Homo sapiens: one gene and its partners. The protein of the gene in region 4 purifies or fractionates together with the protein of the main gene of each other region. This does not show direct contact. Each region holds a gene or a part of one and is shown on either strand. Other genes may lie near its edges. The genes, in order: TPR, RCBTB2, NUP50, REEP2, KCNIP4, KCNIP2 and DSG4.

Region 1 (3,500 bases), on a different chromosome or scaffold from region 4:
CCTAGAATAGAAAAGGTGGAATAAAATTTGCTCTCATTTCTCTCATCATCTGGTGCATTTTTAAAAGAATTAAGTCCTACCGAAACAAGTCCTTTAATCTTAGGAAGGTAAACTACCAACATTCCTCACATGAACTTCAACTTATTTTTATTTTATTTTATTTTTTTGAGACAGAATCTCACTCTCTTGCCCAGACTGGAGTGCAGTGGCCCCAATCTTGGCTCACCGCAACCACTGCCTCCTGGGCTCAAGTGATTCTCCTGCCTTAGCCTCCTGAGTAGCTGGGATTACAAGCATGCAACACTGCCGCTCAGCTAATTTTTGTATTTTTAGTAGAGATGGGGTTTCACCATGGTGGCCAGGCTGGTCTTGAATTCCTGCCCTCAAATGACCCACCTGCCTCGGCTTCCCAAAGTGCTGGGATTACAGGCGTGAGCTGCTGCGCCTGGCTTCAACTTATCAAACAAGCTAAACCCTTAGCACTGCCTAGAGAATCATTAATCAATATGAAAAAAATGAACTACCAGAGGTTCTCATTCTGGAACACAGTTCACAAAAAAAGCAACACTATTGCAAATTAGCTCTTGAATTTAAATGATTTGAATTGTAAAGTATAACATTTAGACTTAATTAATTTGAAACAAAAGAAAACTTACCGTTTAGAAGCAAAATCTAGCTGGGTAGAAATTTTGGTATTTTGTGATCGCAAATCTGTAACTTGTTCTTGAAGTTTCTCAAGCTGCTCATTTTGTATTTTTTCATTTTCTGCTTTTTCTTTTTTGTAGTTCTCAAAAATTTCCTGCAACTAAATATTGGAGATTATGAGAAGGTAACACTGTGTTCTCTAAAAACCTAACCCAGGACAAAGGTGTGATCTTTACCTGTTTAAGGGCAGCCTTAGCCTCTATAGCCTCTGTTGATTCAATAACAGGTACTGGAGCAGGAGTGGAAACAGTCTGTGATGTACTTGGACGTTTTGGAGTTGATGCAAGAGAAACATCATCTAAGCTTGAAGCTTCAGGAAAGTAAAGACTAATAAAATGCTTTGTTGGCTTTCATAAATCAGCTTTAATCTAATGCTTCTTTGCAAATACACTATTATCAAATAAACAAGCTAAACTTATTGAAATGAAACAATAAGATTATAGGAGTTTTTAAATAAGGAATCTACTAAACAATGTATTAAGATTTTTTGATGGTTATTAGAGATAATTCAGTATTTATGGGTTAAAACATAATCCATATTTATGTTTTATTAAAACATATCTGTTTTGGTCATTAAAACATAACCAAAATAAATACTGTAATTCATTGATTCTGAAATGCACCTTTTTCAACAATAGAAAGCATTTCTTTTTAGCAATACATAAAATAATGGTATGTTTTACAGTTGATGGGATGTTATAAGCAATTATATATGGTAGTCAAATTTGAAGCTACCATCATTAGAGTGGCTATTGCTTATGTTGCAAAATTAATCCCTTAATATACATTTCTAAATTATTCCTTAAAATAACTTTATAAAAACCTACCATGTAATGGAATGGCAACTCCTGTTGTTTGTGACAATAAAATACGGTACATATCACGCTGACGAACTATGGAATCAACAAGCTGCATTTGATGCTGTCGTGATTTGCGGAGTTGTTCTAGTTCAGTAAGGGCACTCTCAAGTTTGAGCTGAAGCTCAGTGATTCTGTAGAAAAAGTCGGCCTAATTCACAGGACTGAACTGAGAGTTAACTGATTGTAATTTCTACTGTAATTAACCAAGCATCTTTGCCTACCATTCATCATACCATTTTTGTCTCTCTCATTATTTTTTTTCATGCTGAGTATTTTATGAACTACTTTTTAAATCCCCACCACACAGGACTCAGGTACTTATACTTACCAATGCAATCTGAAAAATTTGTTTGTAAAAATTAAATCAGTTCCACTCACTCCAAACTCTAGTCTTCTTGCTTTCTTAGCCATTCTTCCTCTTCTAGAAGACATTATACATGTATTTTGAAAAAACCTCTGACTAATTCTTACATAGGTTCTCCAGGTTCTCCATGAAGCCGGTCTGCTCCCTGAAATCTAGGACAAGTCCTCTACCGCTATGATCCCACAGATAGGCACTAATCACAGTGAATGCAAATTGTCTACTTGCCTATTTTATTATCTATTTATTACATCTGTCTTACCCATAACCTGAGGTCTTGGAGTAGAAATTTTTTGTTTGGTATTGTTGCTCAATTCTTTCCTCCCTATATCACTATATCCCAAGTATCTAGCACTGTTAGGAACACATAGATTTTTTTTGCGGGCAACAGGGTCTTACCCTGTCGTCCCACTTAGAGTGTGGTGCATGATCATGCTTCACTGCAGCCTCAAACTCCTGGACTCAAGTGATCCTCCCACCTCAGCCTGTCTCCTGAGTAGCTGGGACTATAGACATGTGCCACCACACCCAGCTAATTTTTTACTTTTTTTTGAGACATGGTCTCACTATGTCGTCCAGGCTGGTCTCGACCTCCTGGGCTCAAATGATACCCCATTTAGGCCTCCCAAAACGTTGGGATTACAGGCATGAGACACTGAGCCTAGCTGAGGTTTTCATAAATGTTTGCTCAACAAGCTGAGGTATGTGACTACTTACTTGGATGAAGTTGTTTCTTGTTCTTCTCTTTCTCTGGTTTCCCCAAGCTCTCTAAGGGCCACTAAGAGACGTTGATTTTGTTGTTGAAGCTCTTCAATATTTCTGTAAGATACTAGATGCTGTGATATTACCTCAGATGAACTACTTATATCAGCAGAGCTTACTTCCTCATCACGAATTACGTGGTTACCCCTTGCTTCTTCAAGTTCCATCAAAAGCACTCTAATCTAAAAACAAAGTTTTAATATGTTATAAAATAGTATTAGTTACAATTCTGGACAAGTTTAGAATGAAAGTTTTCAAATTAAAACATTACTTATAAAACCTTCAACTTGTACTGCCTCAAATTATCTTTAAAAATAAAGCATCCTTGGATATTAAAATCTAAACAATCAAATTTTAATAGAATAAAATTACTTTTAAGTATGTATTGAAGGCTATTACTTATTACAAAGTAGCCAAATTACAATTCCCAAAACATGGCTCCAGTTTTGTAAAACAGTGATCAAATAAAACCCACAAATATCTATTTTTTTGTGTGTGCTTTTGTATATATGATAGGGCAGAGCATGAAAAATAGACATTTAAACAAAAAGCATATATATAATGCCATTCATGTGAAATTTTTACATTTGTGCATTGCGTGGATGTACACACACACAAATTAGGGTAAAATATATGAATGAGACATTAATTTATTGATTTGCTTGTTAAGTGTCAGAGTAATGCATACAGTCCAGTCTTACTTCAGTAAAATCAAATAATTCTTACATATGTTTATATATGCTCATGTATATACACATACAGAGAAGGATGTGAAAAAAATACACAACTGTCTGTTAACTTAGCTACACTTT
Region 2 (3,500 bases), on a different chromosome or scaffold from region 4:
CACATTAGCCTAAGCAACAGAGCAAGACTCTGTCTCTAAGAAAATAAAAATAGCCTGGGCGCGGTGGCTCATGCCTGTAATCTCAACATTTTGGGAGGCAGAGATGGGAGGATTAATTGAGGTCAGAAGTTTGGAGACCAGCCTGGCCAACATGGTGAAACCCCATCCCTACTAAAAATACAAAAATTAGCCAGGCGTAAGAGTGTGTACCTGTAGTCCCAGCTACTTGGGAGGCTGAGGCAAGAGAATCACTTGAACTTGGGAGGCAGAGGTTACAGTGATCCAAGATCACACCACTGCACTCCAGCCTGGGTGACAGAGTGAGACTCCATCTCAAAAAATAATAATAATAAATAGATTTTTTTTAAATAGGAGGATTAAATAACATATCCAATGAGTAGCATTTATACTATTGTACCTGTAAGAAAAATCCAAAATAGTTAAAAAAATGTTTAATATCAGTGTATTAAAATGGCAAAAATGTGCTTTCTACTTATGGTCTAAATCTGCTTACAAATGTCCCCCCTTTTCTGCATAGGAGGGCAATGTTTCTTGTAGAGCCAAGGCAGAAGCTGGCAACAGTATTGGGAAGATTTTCTTCATAGTGACAGTGTTACAGCATAAGATCATCTCATATCATCTTACTATAGGATGACAGTAATATTATCTTACTATCTTACTATGTGTTACTTTATTAGTTTTTCCCTTATATGTTTGTTTTGGGATATATGACTTGGCTCATATATATATATATATGATATATATATATATGATATATATTTATATATGATATATATATATGATATATATTTATATTAAAAGGTGCTTTGTTCTTTGCAAAACAGTCTCCTATGTTATTTCCTCATTTTATTAAAATGTAACCTAAAACTGTTTTTACAGAATCTTATTATACTAATGTTTGCCTTGCAATATAAATAGAAAATGGAATGATAAGTAACCTCTCCACGCAGAAGTTCCTGCCACTGATCTCTGTCTTTAAAGGTTCCAAATGGGACACTCGGTGGCCAGTAGTTCAAGTCTGTACAAAAGTAATGTTTCAAAGCCAAATATATATCAAGTAAGGTAATCTGTCACATGACATTTCCTATTTCAGCTGTTTTCCTAATTGTACGGTTCACTAATTTATTTTTAAAGTATCCCTGTTTGGGGCAGATAACTCCTTATTTCTATATATTCTATGTTGAGAGTTTTCTCTACACTTTTAAAAACTACACAGTTGAAGACTACTGAACAAGGGGACACTCTTTTGATAATGTGATAAACACATTCATTCTTAATCCTCACATAAAGTCAAATAATTCATTTGCCTGTACAAAAGATATAACAGGCAGTCTGTACATATTATTTGTGGCAAAGTAATCAGTATTAATCAGTGTATCTGCTACACAATGTGTTATATTACTCGGTAATACCTCTGACCTAAAAAATGAGTTAAGCTGATTATGGGACATAGGTTCATTTGCCTAATTCATTCAACAAATATTAATTCAGTGCCTGCAGTAGGCACTGAATTGAAAGCAAATACATGAGAGCAAACAGAATAACGTAGAGCAAAACAATATCCAGCTCTCTTAGGGACTTCTGTCCACATTACCCCAACCCAATGGTAGGTTTTAAATGCTGACATTTTGCAGTTAATCAGGGGCTTCTAAATGCTAATAATTCTTCTTTAGAAGTGATTACAGAAGAAGGGGTGAAAAAAAATAGCAATTCCTGCAGAGAAGTCCCAGTATTACATATTTTAAAATTCAACTTAATGAGATCAACTCTAAAGCTATGCTTGAGAAACACACTGATATTTTTAGAATTCTCTCAATATAGAACTCTATGCTTAAAATTATCCCATCTGGGTGGGTAACACATTTGATGATGCTTTTATAATCAAAAGAAACAGGAAATTAAATAATATCGATATCTTTTAGGGTACCAGCATGCAGTTTACAGCATCGGTGTGTTAATGAGCTGCAGACCACATAAATTTCAATAGGATAATGATGGTTCCCAAATATATCCTTAGGTGAGTCATTAGATAGTATCTTTAATAGCTTTTTAAGGGTCATCTTCAAGTTATAAATAATATAAATACGTATACAATAAAACATGATCCCAGTTTTCACTTGCAAAAAGGGATAGTGTTAGCTGTAATATTAGCTCCACTTAAATGAGATGTCTAAAATCAATGACAAGTAACAGTAAAATACCTACATGGCTAATTAAAATGGAACAATTATAAACAGGACGGACAAAACTAAAACACTAAAAGCATAACTAAAACTAGCACACAACCTCAAAGGAAATGGTATTGTCATATGTTCATGAAAAACAGAAAACTGTTGTGTAGAATACAGAAACCCTGTTGCTATTTTAATTATTTGTTTTTTTAAAAAGTTTTCCAAATTTCAACAAGAGTGATGAGTCAGATCTTCAGTACAAAGCAAAGCGGTATTTAATTGAAAAGATTACTGAGCTTGACAACTTCAGTCTTTTCAGCCACACACGGCAAAAGTGTCATTTTCAAATATGAAAAATAACCAACATAAATGATAAAAATATTTTTAAGTTGTTATATGCACTAATGTGAGTTGAGATTTGAGATCTCATTTGTAAATCCATTTTAAATCTCGGTCCTTATAGATTTAATCCAATTTTTCAAAAAAAAATCTTAACACGCCTGCTACAGAGATCCTAATTGTTAAAGATCTTTGACCCACAGCATATATATTCCTTCAACATGGCAGGCCCTCTTGGCCTTGGCTCATTTCCACTTGAGATTGGTTTTGTTCAGTATTATATACATACATACACGCAGCATAATACAGGACATATTATAATGCAGTCAAAATTTATGTTTTATTCACATACTATCTCCTACTGGTACTTGTTAGCTCAAAACATCTTCCATAGGGAGATATACATAAGAGATATTAGCTCAGGCCAATTAGCAAGGCTGAAGACGTAAAAGAAACCCACTCTAATGTCAAATTAATGCTGAAAAATTATTATGGTTTAAGTTTCCTGGAAACTTTCACGTTGTTAGAATGTGATCACCATGTGAACTAGATACATGTTCCTTCCAGACAATGAAAGCTGGAAGTATCATCTCAGCCTTCCATTGATGGACATTATCAATATCCCTTACCAGGAGGCAAGCCATCCACTCCTTTGAAGTAAAATCTCCAAGTAGAACTCTCTTTTAGTCTTTAACAAGAGTCCTTAATGTCACTCTGTAACCCCAATAATTCCTGGTCTCCAATCTACCTTTTCCTGGACAATTTTAATCTGTAGCAATATTTATTTATTTATTTATGAGATGGGGTCTTACACTATTGCCCAGACTGGAGTGCAATGGTGTGATCATGACTCACTGCAGCCTCAACCTTCCCGGCTCCAGTGATCCTCACACTACAGCCTCCCAAGTATCTGAAACTACAGGTGTGTGCCACCATGCCTGGCTCATTTTTTTTTTGTTCGTTTTTCTG
Region 3 (3,500 bases), on a different chromosome or scaffold from region 4:
GATTTCCTTAGTCATCTGGCCTGGGGGTAACACACTGCTGATAAGGTACGACTGTAGAGTCCAGCCCTACTGGGCTTTGCGGGTGTTCTCCTCGAAGGGGGAAACAGAGATTGTAAGAAATAAAGACACAAGACAAAGAGATAAAGAGAAAACAGCTGGGCCTGGGGGACTACTACCACCAAGACACGGAGACCGGCAGTGGCCCTGAATGGCTGGGCGTGCTGATATTTATTGCATACAAGACAAGGGAGCAGGGTGAGGAGGATGAGTCGTCCAGGGGATTGACAAGGTCAAGCAAGTCACGTGATCATGGGACAGGGGCCCTTCCCTTTTAGGTAGCTGAAGCAGAGAAGGAAGGCGGCGTACGTCAGCATTTTCTTCTATGCACTTATCAGAAAGATCAAAGACTTTAAAACTTTCACTATTTCTTCTACTGCTATCTACTAAGAACTTCAAAGAGGAACCAGGACTACGGGAGGAGCATGAATGTGGACAAGGAGTGTGACCACTGAAGCACAGCACCACAGGGAGGGGTTCAAGCCTCTGGATGACTACTGGCAAGCCTGGACAATATCCAATCTCCCACAAGAAGGTGGTGGAGCAGAGTGTTCCCTGACTCCTCCAAGTAAAGGAGACTCCCTTTCACGGTCTACTAAGTAACAGGTGCCTTCCCAGGCACTGGCGTTACCACTTGACCAAGGAGCCCTCAAGCGGCCCTTATGCGGGCGTGACAGAGGGCTGGCTCACCTCTTGCCTTCTAGGTCACTTCTCACAATGTCCCTTCAGCACCTGACCCTGTATCTGCCGGTTATTCCTTGGTTATATTAGTAGTACAACAAAGAGTAATATTAAAAGCTAATGACTAGTAATGTTTATACTAATGATTGATAATGCCCGTGATCATCTCTGTATCTAATTTGTATTATGACTATTCTTATTCTAACTATTTTATGTATTATACTGAAACAGTTTGTGCCTTCAGTCTCTTGCCTCGGCACCTGGGTAATCCTTCGCCCACATCCTATAAGTACAGCTGTGTTTTATTCTTTGTTTTTTAGACAGGGTCTCACCCTGTTGCCCAGGCTGGAGTGCAGTGGTGCAATCACAGGTCACAGCAGCCTTGAACTCCTGGGCTCAAGCAAACCTCCCGCCTCAGCTTCCCAAATTGCTGTGACTATAGGCTCATGCCACCATGTTCAGCTAATTAAAACAATTTTTTGGGGGGTTGGGTGCGGTGGTTCTCGCCTGTAATCCCAGCACTTTGGGAGGCCAAGGCGGGTGGATCACTTGAGGTCAGGAGTTTGAGACCAGTCTGACCAACATGGTGAATCCCTGTCTCTACTAAAAATACAAAAATTAGCTGGGTGTGGTGGTGTACACCTGTAATCCCAGCTACTCGGGAGGCTGAGGCAGGAGAATCACTTGAACCCGGGAGATAAAAGTTGCAGTGAGCCGAGGTTGTGCCACCGCACTCCAGCCTGGGCAACAGGGTGAGACTCTGTCTCAAAAAAAAAAAAAAAAAAAAATTTTTTTTATAGAGACCGGGATCTCTCTATGCTGCCCAGTCCTACTGTTTATAAGGGAAAAATGATCAGATTTCCTCAGGGGAGACCATTTTTATTCTGCTGGAAAAGGAACTAGGCCAATCTCAATTCTATTCCTATAAATGCAATTGTTAGGGGTCTCAGGTCTACCATTAAGAAAAGGAAATAAAGCAGGCCTCCAAGAAGCATTAGGGAAACGGAGTACCACAGACCAAGATGGTGATGGTGTACCACTTTCACATCTGGGCAGTGTGCTAAGTTCATGACTACATCACTTAACTCAGCCTTCAGTCATGACTAAAATGGCTTACTGCAAACATGGGTTCAGAATGCTTCAAGTATACGAAACTCAGGAGGAAAAGTGCTTCTACTAAGGAGAATATTTAAGGAGCAGGCACTAGTGGAAAAGCACATCTAAATGTAATTAATACATTTCTACACTAACTAGAGGTCACAGAAATGTAATTAATAAATATCTACACTAAGTACAGGTCATATAATTTCTTGTCATCTCCCATTCATGATGTTCTTAGAAAGGTCTTTTAGTTCTGTCACAAGTCTTCATGAGGAACCCCAAAATGAATGTAAAAGGCAAAAGAAACAGGAAATCATTCTTAGGGAAGCTGCTTTTTACCTCTTCAGCTTCATCTTCTTGATCCCAATTCCTATCTGTCAGTTCCTTCTCGGCATTTCTTTTGGCCATGTTTTCGAACCTAAGTTATAGAAAACAGAAGAGTTTATTTTTCTAGAAGAATAAATTCTTATAAAGAATTTTAAAAATTCACTCTAGCATGAAGTGAGATAAAAACATCTCTGGTTTTTTTATCAGGGAAAAAAAGCATCTGGAAACTGCTTTAATGAGAACTTTACATTGGTGCTGTTAGGCTCCCAGTGTTACAAATCAATAAAGGCTTTTTCCAGGAGGCAGAAGAAGATTCCTAGGGAACACCAGCAGTCCTGAACAACACTAAACCGACTCCATTTGGAAAAATTAAAATGAAATATCAATTGATTTTTTAAAAATCTGGAATCTGAAGTACTGTATATATAATCAAAAAGTCCTTAACTTATTCTACGCATATACATACTGAAAGTCTTGTCATAAAGAAAATAATTTTAATATTTAAAATTCTCTTAAAGATGACCCATTAAAGAAGTGTATCTTTCAGTAAGAATACGAATAACGGGCTGGAAACGCCTCCACAACACGAATACTGTTCTTTAAGCTACAGCCGACAGAGATACATGGTTCCCAAGACTGAACATTTTGTTGCTTCAAATTGTATATTGCCAAGACAATTAGAAGTCCAAAATGATTAACATGGGTGTGTTAGTATTCTGGGAACTTATAACCTTTCAAAAACAAATCATTGGCTTAACTCTTCAATACGATGGCATTAGTGGAAGGGGCAGGAGTTGGGGAACGGCGTGAACTCTGCAGTGGATTCCGGCACCTAACCAAAGAGGGTGCTCCTGTCCATCCCTTAAAATTTACGATTTGTTTTCTGATCTTAATATCATAACAACAAAACAAAGAAAACCCACAACCCAGAGCTCCGCTATGAGTGTTGTGCTGCCTTCTTCACTAACTCTCCAGCTGGACAAAAAACCTTTCCATTTCCCCTGCTACCCACCTCGCCCAAAAACTTACTGATTAGTTTTGGGGACCTGCCAGGTCTTGTTAAACCTGCCTGAACTCCTTCGTGATACTCTCCCCACTCTTGTTTGCTCTCAACACCACAATACACCAGAGTAAGCTTCCTTATTCTGGTGTATTGTGTAATACAGAGTGTATTACAACCCCACAAAGTGGTCGCTAAGATATGAGGTGACATATCACTCTTTAGTATCTAAAAGTAAAATGCAAATGCTGGTATTCCAAAGGCCTCTACAATTTGATGGCCAGTGGAGTAATTACATACGGGCTGTCAGCTTTTAATACATTTTAGTGATTTT
Region 4 (2,705 bases):
GTTTGTTTTTTGTTTTGTTTGAGACGGAGTCTTATTCTGTCACCAGGCTGGAGTGCAGTGGCACGATCTTGGCTCACTGCAATCTCTGCCTCCCACGTTCAAGCAATTCCCCTGCCTCAGCCTCCCAAGTAGCTGGGACTACAGGCACGCGCCACCATGCCTGGTTAATTTTTGTATTTTTAGTAGAGATGGGGTTTCACCATGTTGGCCAGGATGGTCTTGATCTCCTGACCTCGTGATCTGCCCGCCTCGGCCTCCCAAAGTGCTGGGATTACAGGCATGAGCCACTGCGCCCAGCCTAGGCCTCTGGTTTTATCTTGAGTCCCAAAACCATTTTCCCAGACTGAGCCCCCTCAAGCCCATCTCTTAGCTGGGCACCAGAGCTCCTGTCAGTCACAGGCTGGCCTCCCCACTCCCCCAGCTGAACCCTGCTTCTCACTTGAGGTCCTTCCCACCTGTCAGCTGGTGTGGCAAGAACAAAGCACAGAGGCCAAAATAAATGAGGTGCCAGAGTTTGGTTTATTGGCTCATCCAGTGCCAAAGGTCCAATGGGCACCCTCTTCCCAAGGAACCGGGAGCCCCGCGGCTCCTGCATTTCTCTTTCTCCTTCACGTGTTCCTCCTGGCCCTGACTGAAGCCGTGGCAGAAGCTGGGGCGGGTGTGAGCAGAGGCTGGGTTCTGCCAGGGGTCTTAGGGCCCAGTCTGCTTGGTACAGGATGGGGACCCTGGGCAAGAGGGGATGGACCCCAGGGGCAGAGGAGAGGGGCCCACTCAGCAGGGGCCTGTACCAGACAGAGCAGGGGTGGGCCCTGAGGAGCACGGGAGTCCAGCCCAGGGGCACGGTGGCAATGGGGTGACCTAAAAGGGAGCAAGGTCATAGGAGCAGGTGAGAGGCCCCCCAGATCCCCGTTCTCTCATGGGCTGGGTCCTCTGAGGCTCAGAGCCTAGGATGGAGGGTTGAGCAGGGAAAGGGCCAGATGACTGTGGGGCTCAGGGTGGGAGGAGGCGACTGCTGGAGGGACAGTCCTTGACCCAAACTACCCCGAGCCCTAGACCCAGAAAGACACACTCACACAGCCCTGGACCCCCCTTTTTAATGTGGGAACATGTGGCACTCAGCCCCACCCAATGACCAGGAAAAGAGCCCCCAGCTGCAGCTCTGGCCTGGCCATCCTGGTCGCTGAAGCACAGGCCAATCCCTGTCTTCCATCCACAGCTGCACCTGGAGGCCCCACCCAGGGTCCCCAACGTCCTCCCCGTGTGCTCCCTTTCCCCCATGTGCCTTCAGGCCCGTCCTTGGTCCATCTGGGCTAGGACTTCCCCCTCCCTGCTCCCAAACCAAGGCGAGCAGTGGAAACACGACAGGACCTCTGAGAAGCGGATTGCTATGGGCTTCAGCAAGGCACTGGGTGGGTGGGGCAGGGCGGGGCTGCAGCGGAACAGCGGTGGAGGCCGAGCAGTCCCCACCTCCTTGGGTGGCTCAGTCCTCAGCCTCTGGTCCACCCTCTACCCTCAACCCCCACAGCTGGGCCTCCTTCCTCTTTTCCAAGCCCCTTCCAGAAGAGTGGCCACTGGGCAGGCACCGGAAATGGCCATCTGCGGGGCCCAGGGGCCTGAGACACCTAGGCTACTGGCACAGTGTGGAGCAGGGGCTGGGTCTGAGGCCCCTCCTGAGGCTTCATCCTTGCTCTGCAGCCTGCGGGGGTGGAGGGGCTCAAGCTGAGTCGCCCCCGCCAGAGGTCTTCTTCTTGGGCCGGGTCTTCAGTGTCTTGGAAGCCAGTGGCTGTGGAAAGAAGGAGGAAGATGGGGCTCAGCCTGGAGCCGCCACCCCCTGCCTGTTTCCCCAAGCTCTGGCCAGTGCCCTCACCTCAGCTTTGGGCGCTTTTTTGATGGGTTTGGCCCTCTTGGGAGCTTTGTCTCCCATGTCATCCTCAGAAGCCTCTGTCCGGGAATCTGCCGGGTTTGTGCTGGACCTTAGACTCAGGGCAGGGTCATCTCCTGGGTGCAGGGAGAAAAGGAGGTGGGGGAATCTTTCCCATCTGGACTCCTTGCCCTTGGGGCCCCACCCCAACCCCGGGCCCTGCCTGTACCTAAGTCCTCGATGGTGTCCAGGAGGCTGCCAGGGCTGGGTCGGAGGCGGCCGTCAGGCCTCTGCAGGGGCAGTGCGTCCTCGTCCCGGATCAGGGTCAGGTCCTGCATGCTGAAGCTGCGGAGCTTCTCTGACAGCACCCCCTGGCCCTAGGGTCACCACCACGCACCGGGAGAGCCGGGGGGAAGGGGCGGGGTGGAGATAGAGGTCACCATGGTGCTGGCAGCAGCCCCAGGCTCGGTGCCCTCCCCACACTGTCCTCACCCAGTCCCACACAGACAGAGCTGAGGGCTGGGGCAGGGCCACACTTTGCCTCTGGGGACAGATGGGGAAATGGCCGGACAATCAAAGTGACTCGGCCAGATAGCAGTAGAGCCTGGACTGGAGCCTCCAGCTGCATGAGCCCAGAGTCTCTACAGCCCCGAGTACAGGGTGGATGCAAAGGGGCCTGGCCAGGGCCCTTTGTACAAGGTAGGGGCCCTGGGAGTCTGAGCCTGCCCCCATCTCACCTTGGCGGCAGCTGTGACTGCAGCATTGGCGGCAAGGTTCAGGCCCCTCTTGCCCACCCTCATCATGGTCTCATAGCTCTTGTCTCGGGCCTGCGTGATGTACTCGT
Region 5 (3,500 bases), on a different chromosome or scaffold from region 4:
TGAAGAGAAAATATTTCAACCAAGAACTGAATTGAATAAAACTTTCTCAGAAACTCTTTGTTTAATGGGCAATCACAGTATGCCAGCATGGGTGTGCCACAGAGAATCAAAGTCCACAGATACTGATTATATTCCTATCTGGGAAGGATCAGTATGAAATATACATATGATGGGGCTCTCATAGAATGGGATATTTTCCCCCTTTTCCTCTCATTTCTCAATGCTCCTCTGGGAATTGTGTGAAGGTAAAGTCAAAAAGAAAGTTCTTACATTCTTAAATCCTCTGTAAAGGATCTGAAGCTCTTTCTTGGTAAATTTGCTCTGGGCTTCCAGAAGCTCAAGGGCTTCAGGCCGATGCCTGACGGTGGCCATCTCCAGTTCATCTTCCACGCTGTCTGTGGAGGAAAACAAGAAAGAGTCTTAGGACCAGCCACTGCTCACCGATGCTTACACAGAGCAACAAAGGAAAACGGAAGAACATGTCTGCTAATGTCTGTGACTGTCCACAGAGGAAGGACCCTCACAATGCCTATAAGGCCTTTACATTTCCCAGTTTAAGCGTATTAAGCTAAAACACTTGTATATGATTTTTTTGCATATTCTTGTCATTAATGTAGATATTACAACCCTAGCATTGTTTTAAGACAACAAAAAAGAGCACAGGAATTTATTTCAGATAATCAGTGGATTATATGATTACGTCAAACAAAAAGTTTAAGTAGCAATATATATTACTCTATAAATCTAACAGTAACATATATTTCTTTTTTCCCCAACGTTTAAGTTCAGAGGTACATGTGCAGGATGTGCAGGTTTGTTACATGGGTAAACATGTGCCATGGTGGTTTGCTGCACAGATCATCCCATCGCCCAGGTATGAAGCCCAGCATCCATTAGCTGTTCTTCCTGATCCTCTCCCTCCCCCAACAGGTGCCCAGCATGTGTTGTTCCCTGGCAGTGTCCATGTGTTCTCATCAATCAGCTCCCACTTACAAGTGAGAACATGCAGTGTTTGGTTTTCTGTTCCTGCATTAGTTTGCTGTAGAGAATGGCTTCCAACTCCATCTATGTGCCTGCAAATAAAATGATCTCTGTCCTTTTTATGGCTGCATAGTATTCCATGGTGTATATGTACCACATTTTCTTTATCCAGTCTATCATTGGTGGGCGGTTAGGTTGATTCTGTGACTTTCCTATTGTGAATAGTGCTGCAATGAACATATGCAGGCATGTATCTTTATAATAGAATGAATTATATTCCTTTGGGTATATACCCGGTAATGAGATTGCTGGGTCAAATGGTATTTCTGCCTCTAGGTCTTTGAGGAATCACCACACTACCTTCCACAATGGTTGAACTAATTCACACTCCCACCAACAGTGTAAAAGTTTCCCTTTTTCTCTACAACCTCACCAGCATCTCTAGCATTTTTAAGGTATAGTTAGAAAAACATAGAAGATCACAAATAGTCCAACCTGGAATTTGTTTCTATATAACAACCACTAGTTATAAACAATGGAATTGTCATTTAATAATAATCAGTTTTGTGCCCTATGTAAAATGCAACTACAAGATAGCCTCTGATAATGTTCACTAAGGATTCCAATGAAATCAGATATTTTGCACAGCTACTTGGGAGGCGGAGGTGGGAGGACTGCTTGAGCCCAGGAGGCTGAGGCTGCAGTGAGCAGTGATGGCACCACTGCAGTCCAGTTTGGGTGACAGCATGAGACCCTGTCTCAAACAAACAATCAAACAAACAAAAAAAATAGAACCTTAGACTCTCAGAATGGAAGGACATCTGAAGAAAGATATAAGGAGATAGAGAAAGAAGGAAACCTCCCTAATTCATTCTATGAAGCATCACCCTAATAACAAAACCAGCAAATGACATAACCAAAAGAGAACACTACAGACTGATATCCTTGATGAACATAGATGTTAAAATCCTTAACAAAATACTCACTAGCTGAATCCAACAACATATCAAAAAGATAATCCACCATGATCAAGTGGGTTTCAAACCAGGAATGCAGGGATGGTTTAACATACGCAAGTCAATAAATGTGATATACCACATAAACAGAATTAAAAACAAAAATCACACGATCATCTCAGTAGATGCTGAAAACCATTCAACAAAATCCAACATTCCTTTATGATTAAAACTCTCAGCAAAATTGGCATACAAGGCACATACCTTAATGTAATAAAAGCCATCTATGACACACCCACAGCCAACATAATATTGAGTGGGGAAAAGTTGAAAGCATTCCCTCTGAGAATGGAAACAAGATAAGGATGCCCACTCTCACCACTCCTCTTCAACATAGTATTAGAAATCCTAGCCAGAGCAATCAGACAAGAGAAAGAAAACAAGGGCATCCAAATTGGTAAAGAGGAAGTCAAACTGTCATTGTTTGTTGATGACATGATTGTTTACCTTGAAAACCCTAAGGACTTCTCCAGAAAGCTCCTAGAACTGATAAAAGAATTCAGTGAAGTTTCTGGACAGAAAATTAATGTACAAAAATCAGTAGCTCTTCTATACACTAACAGTGACCAAACAGAGAATCAAATCAAGAACTCAACCCCTTTACAATAGCTGCAAAAATATAAAATACTTAGGAATATACCTAACAAAGGAGTCAAAAGACCTCTACAAGGAAAACTACAAAACACTGTTGAAAGAAACCATAAGTGACACAAACAAATGGAAACACATCCCATGCTGGGTAGAATCATGGATGGGTAGAATCAATATTGTGAAAATGACCATACTGCCAAAAGCAATCTACAAATTCAACATAATCCCCACAGAATACCATGATTATTCTTCACAGAATTAGAGAAAACAATTCTAAAATTCATGTGGAACCAAAAAAGAGCCCGCATGGCCTCATAGAAAAAGCAAGACTAAGCAAAAAGAACAAATCTGGAGGCATCATACTACCTGATTTCAAATTATACTATAAAGCCATAGTCACCAAAACAGCGTGGTACTGGTATGAAAATTGGCACATAGACCAGTGGAACAGAATAGATAATTTGGAAATAAACCCAAATACTTACAGCCAACTGATCTTTGACAAAGCAAACAAAAACACAGAGTGGGGGAAAGGACACCCTTTTCAACAAATGGTGCTGGGATAATTGGCTAGCCTCATGTAGGAGAATGAAACTGGGTCCTCTTCTCTCACCTTATACAAAAATCAACTCAAGATGGATTAAGGACTTAAATCTAAGACCAGATACTGTAAAAATTCTAGAAGATAACATTGGAAAAACCCTTTTAGACACTGGCTTAGGCAAGGATCTCATGACCAAGAACCCAAAAGCAAAAGCAAAAGCAATAAAAACAAAGATAAATAGCTGGGACCTCATTAAACTAAAGAGCTTTTGCATGGCAAAAGGAACAGTCAGCAGAGTAAACAGACAACCCACAGAGTGGGAGAAAATCTTCATAATCTATACATCTGACAAAGGATTAATATCCAGA
Region 6 (3,500 bases), on a different chromosome or scaffold from region 4:
AATCTGTCCAGGCCCTTCTATTCTCAACCCCAGCCACCTCCTAGGACCTATCCATTGACTCAGGCCCAAGATTTCTCCCTATACATTCTTGTCCCCCTCCCACAGGGCTCTCAATGGCTGGTCTGAGAAGCCAGCCAGTGCCAAGAATGGAGCATTCTCTCTGAGAGGGGAGTCTTAGGGGAAATGTTTATGAGGTCAGGGATGGGGGAAGCACCATAGCAGGAGACATCTGTCTAGTGTGTTTCTAGAGTAGGGGTAGGAGGTGGGGAACCGCTCAATTCCTACAGGAGGGGCACTCTCAACACTGGGTGTCAGGCAGGAAGGGGGTGAGAGCTGGTGGGAGTTGGGAACACCCCCCGAGATGCACTCTGCCCACTCTCTGGCCCCTTCAGCTCCAGAGATCTGGACTACTGAATCCCCAAGCTCTTGGATCCCTCCAGCCCCCAGGGAGGCGTAGGATGAGGATAGACCTGGGAAGAGAAGGGTGAGGTCCGCCTGGACTAGGGTTAGAGCATGGTCCCCCCAGGAAACACTGACCCCCTCTCCTGGGGGCTAGATGACATTGTCAAAGAGCTGCATGGACCTCATGATGTTCTCATCCTGTGGCCATGATGTGAGCGAGGCAGATTGAAGAGAGAGAAAGAGAAGGAGCTTATCAGAGACAGTGAGAGGGACACTGAGTCACAGACGGGGACATTCAAAAGCACAGAGGAAGGAGATGCCCAGAGAGACCTGAGGTAGGGAAGGGGTAAGCCTCCCACAAAGGAATAGGATTGAAATATGGGGGTGAGGTGGGAAGGTGGTATTCTTCCCAAAGAAGCTTTTCCCTGCATTACTAAATCAGGCCTGAGTCCAGGTCAGGGTAATGTAGAGGGCAGGGAGCTGTACCTTTTGACAAGACTCAATGAATTCCTCAATGGTCACCACACCATCCTTGTTTCTGTCCATCTTCTGCAAGAAGGTGGTCAGGCAGGGAGAACAGGAGGGATGGCAAGAGAGAGGCAGACAGAAGTCAGGTGAGTTCCCTGCTGGTTCTTGGCCTTCTTCCCTTCACTCCAGGGCCCTCCAGCCTACCCACTCCCAAGTACCTGGAAGAAGCTCTCCACGTGTTCCCTTGGGGCCTCCTCCCGGAGTGCAGGGTACGTGTACTTGCCCATCATGTCATAGATGGACTTCATGATGTCAAGCATTTCCTGTTAGGCCAAGAGAGAAGAGGATCCTTCCTCAGAGCCTCCAGCCTCCCTTGATCCCTTGCTTGTGGGCATATGTGGGTCATATTTCCCTCCCATCACCCTCTGCACGCCACCCCCATCACCGCCACAGACCCCCAGCCCTTCAGTTGCCCTGCACCTCCTTGGTGATGCAGCCGTCCTTGTTAAGGTCATACAGGTTGAAGGCCCAATTAAGCCTGTCATCTACAGTTCCCCGAAGAATCACGGACAAACCAGCCACAAAGTCCTGGGAAGGAGGCAGGAGGGAGCTGTGTCCTCGGGTACTCTTCACCCAACTCCTTCTCTGGGTTTGGCCTGGAGATCCTGGCCCTGAACTCCAGGAAACAGGCTTCCCTGGCCCACCTCGCCCAGCTCACCTCAAAACTGACCGAGCCATCATGGTTGGTGTCAAAGGCATTGAAGAGAAAAGTGGCATAGGTGCTGGAGTCTGCAGGGTGAGTGTGGAGAAGTTGGCTTCCACACAGGAGAGGACTTCCTCCCTCTAAGGAGCTCCCCATACCCCCCATCACCTTGGCATTCCCAGCTCCTCCAGAATCCCTCCCTCCCTCAGCCTAGAGAAGGACAACTGCTTCCCCTTGGGCCTTGTCCCCTCACCTCCTTGAGGAAAGAACTGGGAGTAAATCTGCTTGAAGTTCTCCTCATTGACAATTCCGCTGGGACATTCCTGGAAGGAGAGGGCACCAGGCTGAGGGCAGAGACAAAATCCCCTTCCGTTCACCGCCCCCACCCTCCATGGCCCAAGACTCCCAGGGAGGGGGATAATCTTCAAGCCTCCAGAGGACTCACCACGTGGCTCATGTGATGGGAGGGAAGACTTCTTTCCCAGTGCACAAATAAAAAACATGGAACGAAACTGACAGTCTACAGGCGCCACTTCCGTTCTGGCCCCGCCCCAGAACCTCCAGCTAGAAGTTCAGTCTCAGGGCCTTGCCTCCCTTCCGCCCACACCTCAAGCATCCAAGCCATGCTTTCTGGGAAGCTGTGGACCGGCTTGGGTCCTCCTGTCCCACCCTCGCTGAGTTTGGCCTCGCCTTGCACTCACGTTCTTGAAGCCCCGGTACAGGACCTGCAACTCCTTGCGCGTGAATTTGGTTTGCTCCTGCAGCTGCTCCAGACCCTCAGGCCGGTGACACACGGTGGACAATTCAAATTCATCGTCCACGCTGTCTGCGGGAGCGGTGAGGACAGCCGCGCCTCAGGCCCAGCCTCCGCGACCCCTCTTCAAATCACTGCCCCATTCACCCCCTCCCCGCCCCCCGGTCCCATCCGATGCCGGAGACCAGGCTGCCAGTTCCCTGGGCCCCGAGCCAAGGACACTGAGGTAAGGAGAAAAGATGATGGCCATCTTCGAGGTCTATCAGCGGGCCAAGGCCTGGCCTGGCCCCAGAGCCAGGGATCCGACTCAGTGCTCGCCCCGCGGCCCTCGATCCCTCGTTGGAGGGGAAGGCCCCCAGCCGCATCTTCGTTTTAGAAAGGGAGGAGTGGGAAAAGCCAGTTCAAGAGGGGGCGTCTGAGGGTCAGAGCTCCGGGCCTTCGGGGACCAACTCAGATCCGCCCAGCCCCAGCCTTGCCCCGCCCAAACCCTCCCCTCGTCCCACCCAGCCCCTCCCCTCGCCCCGCCCAGCCCCATCTATCCCAGCCATGCCTGAGCCATGCCCCGCCCAGCTCAGCCAACCTCCATCCAGACCCCACCCCCGGCCCCATCTCAATCCTGCCCCGCCCCCAACGTCCAGCCCCCAGGCAAGTGCCCCCCACCCCAAGATGGCAAAGCCGCCCTGCCCCGCCCCGCCCCCACCAGGAGCGTAAGTCACCTGGGTCCAGCAGGCGGGGTCTGTGGGGGCGGAGGGAGGCTGGGGCGGCTAATGCTGAAGGGAGCGAACTGTCACCGAGAAAGCGGAAGACCCGGCCAACTGCAGACACACACCTGGCCCCTCACACTCAGAGCAAACCTCACAACCCAGCCCGTGCAAAGGCACACCCAACCAGCACAGACACACACGAAACGGACCCCATGCACACAAGCTTGCGGGACTCACGCCTGTCCTTTTCCGAATCCACCCCCGTGTGGGACCCATCTAAGTCCAACACAACAGCATGCTCAAATAACTACAAAGCGGGCCTTTATGGTTTGCAAAATGCAGTATGATCCTATGAGGTGGGCAAGGCCCAACTGAGGAAATGGAGACCTAGAGACAAAGCGAGGTCACTCAACTGGAGATCACTCAGCAGGGGACCAGGCTGGCACAGAAAACCCAAATACCCTGGCGT
Region 7 (3,500 bases), on a different chromosome or scaffold from region 4:
CCTCCTTCCACCGTGCCCCCGGCTGCATAGGTGTTGGTGTAGATTTCTGAAAAGGGAGGATGTTGGTTTAACAGCGCTGGAGTTGCCTGCAGCGCGCATCTGCCTAAAACGCTGCCGCCGCCGTCTGCGGTGCCACCACCACCCGGCAAGGCGTAGGCGCTAAAAAGCTGACAAAGAGAGATACAAGTTACACCGATACATCTCCAGGCTTGTTGACCAAATAAAAGTAAATTAATTACACAGAGGGAGTCAGTGGTGGGACGTGGCCTTCCCACATTTGCACAGACTTCGCCCTAGACTTAAAGGTGTAGAACTAGCCAAGAGAACTACAAGCAGGCGCCCGTTCCCGCCGTGGCTGCTGCGGGCTTGATCCAGCCGGGAGCCCTCCAAAGCAAGGCCAGCGGCGTGATTGCAGAAACTGAGCTCATAGTCCTCCTTCACTCCGGAACAGGATGGAGCTGGGCTCACAGGGATGTTCAGTCACGGAGTTTCTTTGCATACAAAGGGCCAAGCTTGGGATACTAAGGAACCATCAGAGAAAGCTCACGTGCACTGCAGAATTAAGCACCCTCTCTGTTTGGTGCAATCATTGCCATATAGCTAAGTAGTGTGTTCAGTATTGTTAGATATGCGTGGGGCTGGTAAGATAGGAGAGTTTACGACACTCTTTTGAGGCAAAAGCTTGTCTGAAGTTAAGAAAAGTTATTCAGTGTATTATTAGAGTACATTTACTGCCTTTTCTTTAGCTCTTTAAAAAAAAACAGCTTGTATTATAAATAATTACTACAGTGCCAGGCACTACTCTAACGTATATTTTGTGATATATGTATATATACACACTTATATATGTGTGTGTGTATATATATAGACACACATACACATGTATGTTATATATAATAAAATAATCTATACAATATATGTATGTATTATATATTACATATGTAATATGTATTATTTACTCCTCACAGCAACACTTTAAAGTAGGTACTATCATAAGCTCAATTTTAAAGATAAGGAAACTGAGGCCCAGTGAGGTTAAATGTCTTGACTAAGGACTTATTACTACAGGTTGAGCATCCCAAATCCAATAATCAAGAATCCAAAATGCTCCTAAGTCTGAAACTTTTTGATCATCATGGTACAAAAAGTTTGAGCCAAACTCAAACTCATGGTCCTATGCATTTCGGATAAAAGATATGCAACCCTTAAGCAAGTGGCAGAGCTGGGAATCAAACCCAAGCATTCTGCTTCCAGAGTTTGCTCTTTTAACTGCTGTGTCATACTTCACTGTCTGTAGTTTCAGATAGAAAAAAAAAGTGGCTACTTCAAACAGGTCACATTCCCTCTAATTATACTGTCACCCAAAGAGACTGACAGACTTTTCCATAAGGTACTTTTACATGAAGTTGGTCTGGTTGAATAATTTTGAAAAATTTAAAAGGAAAAACAGATTTTGGTGTCTACTGACCAGAGGAATCCATCCGATCCTGGGTATTTGAGGCTGTCATGGGTGCACATATATTTGACACATCCTGAAAAGAAAAATAAACATTTTAAAAACAAACGCTTTATGTTAAACATTTAAAAACTGACATCTGTTCATTTTTGTGCAGCATGTAATTGTTAAGACATGCTCAATTTCCACTGAAACTCCACACTTCTCTGGAGAGTGACAGTCCACTTACCCTGTCCTCGGGATGGGCCCCTTCAATTCTCCAAGACTGCATCACTCCTTCTCCGCCCTCAGGCACAGGAGCAAATCTTGTTCCCAGGCCTTCTGGCTGTCTCTGTTTGCAGCAACACAGGAGCAGCAAGAGTGGAGCCACTGCCCAAGAAAGTGACAATGTCGAGTTAACACACATTGCTCGGTTTAGGAAGTCACTGGATGAATCATTCTGGGGAGCATTTGGTGGCAGTATATTTAGAACAAAAATACAAATATATGTAAGAAAATCTCATTTTTTTCCTTTAGGGGATTGAGTATACATATCCAAGTTTATAAATACAGCACCACCAAATCACATAGAACTTTAGCGCTAGATGGCAAGGAGTTTGCGATCAGGTAATTGAATTTCTTTGCTGACAGATTAGGAAAGTAAGGTCGTCTTTAGTCTAAGACTCTTGAACTGGTTGGGGCAGATGCACACATACATGTAAGTTAAACGCATCATGAATATATGTTATCAAGAGGATTGAATACAGGATTCAGCTATAGGACCTGGAGATAGGACCTATCTTCAATCCTTATTACAGTTACACTTAAAATAGAAGTCAAATAATACTCACTAAATTTAATGGAGATATTTACAATTATTTTAAGACTTTGTTTATAGACTATAATGAAAAATTAAAGCTATCAAAAATGTTTAGCTATCCAAGTGTTTCTTAAGAGGAAATTTCCTATTTGTTACCCTAATAATCACCTCAATTCTGTATTTTAATCCATAAATATAGACACTGCTTAAGTTTTCTAAGATTCTAGAATACACTCTGTTTAGTTCTTTGGGCCCACTCTGGTTGCTTTTCATACTTTCCTAATTCTCTAGCATGGCATGCATTTTACTAAGTGGGTTAATTAAAGATAAAGAATAGAAGGATAAATGCTTGAGGGGATGGATGCCCCATTCTCCAGGATGTGATTATTTCACATTGCATGCCTGTATCAAAGCAGCTAATGTACCCCATAAATATGTACACCTATTATGTACCCACAAAAATTAAAAATTAAAAACAGATACAAAAGAAGAGACTATCAAAGTTGCAAAATCAGCTTTAGTCTTATTACAACAATTAATTTGGCAATTTTGCCATCTGCACTATGAACAGTGAAAGGTCAAGTTATACATTTCCATAGCATTTTCTGGAAAAGGACTAAAACTAAAATTGGTAGCCCCTAGGCCATGGTTCTGCCTATTCTATATTTCTGTGAATTTAAATGTGAGCTGGATCATGTACCATTGCAGGCCTGAACTCTAACAAAGGCACTATCTAATAAATGAAATGAAGTGTTTTTAGCACATACCCAATACAATTACTGTATGTGTAATCTCATTTGGAGCTAACATCAAAAGTGTCAATTTGAGGCCCTTTGGGAACATAGGTTTGGGCTCAGATCCCTCCCACTACCATCACACTGCCCCCTCTCTCCTAAAATAGACCATGGGCTTCTCCATTGAAAACAAGTGTCCATAGGGGTATTCCTCTCCTATTCTACAATCCATCAGTTGAACAACTCTCATGCTTTCTTTGTCTGGGTCAGGAAAAAGTCTTGAAATTCTTAGTGCTAACGTTCTGGAAATGCAGCTGGCACTGGGTTTTTAGCCCTGAACTGCACATTAGTCTCACCAAAGGGCTTGAACATGCTGATGCTTGGTCTCATCTTGAGTATGACTCTAGTATGAGTAATTTTGGAAGACCTTTAACTAATTCTTATGTACAACTAGGGTTGAGAACCGCTAACTCAAAGCTTACCCGAAACCACTACTCAATTGCTGTAGAGT

What was found.
Region 1: the proteins of REEP2 (region 4) and TPR purify together in Homo sapiens (affinity purification with mass spectrometry; one large-scale study listed by BioGRID and IntAct). This does not show direct contact.
Region 2: the proteins of REEP2 (region 4) and RCBTB2 purify together in Homo sapiens (affinity purification with mass spectrometry; one large-scale study listed by BioGRID and IntAct). This does not show direct contact.
Region 3: the proteins of REEP2 (region 4) and NUP50 purify together in Homo sapiens (affinity purification with mass spectrometry; one large-scale study listed by BioGRID and IntAct). This does not show direct contact.
Region 5: the proteins of REEP2 (region 4) and KCNIP4 purify together in Homo sapiens (affinity purification with mass spectrometry; one large-scale study listed by BioGRID and IntAct). This does not show direct contact.
Region 6: the proteins of REEP2 (region 4) and KCNIP2 purify together in Homo sapiens (affinity purification with mass spectrometry; 2 studies listed by BioGRID and IntAct, with this or other methods). This does not show direct contact.
Region 7: the proteins of REEP2 (region 4) and DSG4 purify together in Homo sapiens (affinity purification with mass spectrometry; 2 studies listed by BioGRID and IntAct, with this or other methods). This does not show direct contact.

Annotation. Positions count from the first base shown.
Region 1 is NC_000001.11:186,354,754-186,358,253, forward strand, and holds part of TPR (nucleoprotein TPR), read right to left. Parts: intron 2,871-3,500; coding exon 2,644-2,870; intron 1,697-2,643; coding exon 1,533-1,696; intron 1,016-1,532; coding exon 882-1,015; intron 806-881; coding exon 657-805; intron 1-656.
Region 2 is NC_000013.11:48,526,581-48,530,080, forward strand, and holds part of RCBTB2 (RCC1 and BTB domain-containing protein 2), read right to left. Parts: exon of another isoform or gene 1,124-3,500; intron 1-1,123.
Region 3 is NC_000022.11:45,166,925-45,170,424, reverse strand, and holds part of NUP50 (nuclear pore complex protein Nup50), read right to left. Parts: intron 2,260-3,500; exon of another isoform or gene 2,258-2,259; 5' UTR 2,248-2,257; coding exon 2,179-2,247; intron 1-2,178. UniProt on the Homo sapiens protein: Component of the nuclear pore complex that has a direct role in nuclear protein import. Actively displaces NLSs from importin-alpha, and facilitates disassembly of the importin-alpha:beta-cargo complex and importin recycling.
Region 4 is NC_000005.10:138,444,761-138,447,465, reverse strand, and holds the end of REEP2 (receptor expression-enhancing protein 2), read right to left. Parts: coding exon 2,599-2,705; intron 2,239-2,598; coding exon 2,091-2,238; intron 1,999-2,090; coding exon 1,868-1,998; intron 1,784-1,867; coding exon 1,715-1,783; 3' UTR 501-1,714; downstream 1-500. UniProt on the Homo sapiens protein: Required for endoplasmic reticulum (ER) network formation, shaping and remodeling. May enhance the cell surface expression of odorant receptors.
Region 5 is NC_000004.12:20,850,273-20,853,772, forward strand, and holds part of KCNIP4 (Kv channel-interacting protein 4), read right to left. Parts: intron 396-3,500; coding exon 271-395; intron 1-270.
Region 6 is NC_000010.11:101,826,801-101,830,300, forward strand, and holds part of KCNIP2 (A-type potassium channel modulatory protein KCNIP2), read right to left. Parts: intron 3,143-3,500; coding exon of another isoform or gene 3,098-3,142; coding exon 3,044-3,097; intron 2,400-3,043; coding exon 2,275-2,399; intron 2,090-2,274; exon of another isoform or gene 1,918-2,089; coding exon of another isoform or gene 1,897-1,917; coding exon 1,827-1,896; exon of another isoform or gene 1,660-1,826; coding exon 1,589-1,659; exon of another isoform or gene 1,459-1,588; coding exon 1,351-1,458; intron 1,194-1,350; coding exon 1,089-1,193; exon of another isoform or gene 1,060-1,088; intron 952-1,059; coding exon 889-951; coding exon of another isoform or gene 841-888; intron 601-840; coding exon 553-600; 3' UTR 471-552; coding exon of another isoform or gene 408-470; 3' UTR 1-407. UniProt on the Homo sapiens protein: Regulatory subunit of Kv4/D (Shal)-type voltage-gated rapidly inactivating A-type potassium channels. Modulates channel density, inactivation kinetics and rate of recovery from inactivation in a calcium-dependent and isoform-specific manner.
Region 7 is NC_000018.10:31,407,777-31,411,276, reverse strand, and holds part of DSG4 (desmoglein-4 isoform 2 preproprotein), read right to left. Parts: intron 1,826-3,500; coding exon 1,686-1,825; intron 1,533-1,685; coding exon 1,469-1,532; intron 168-1,468; coding exon of another isoform or gene 47-167; coding exon 1-46.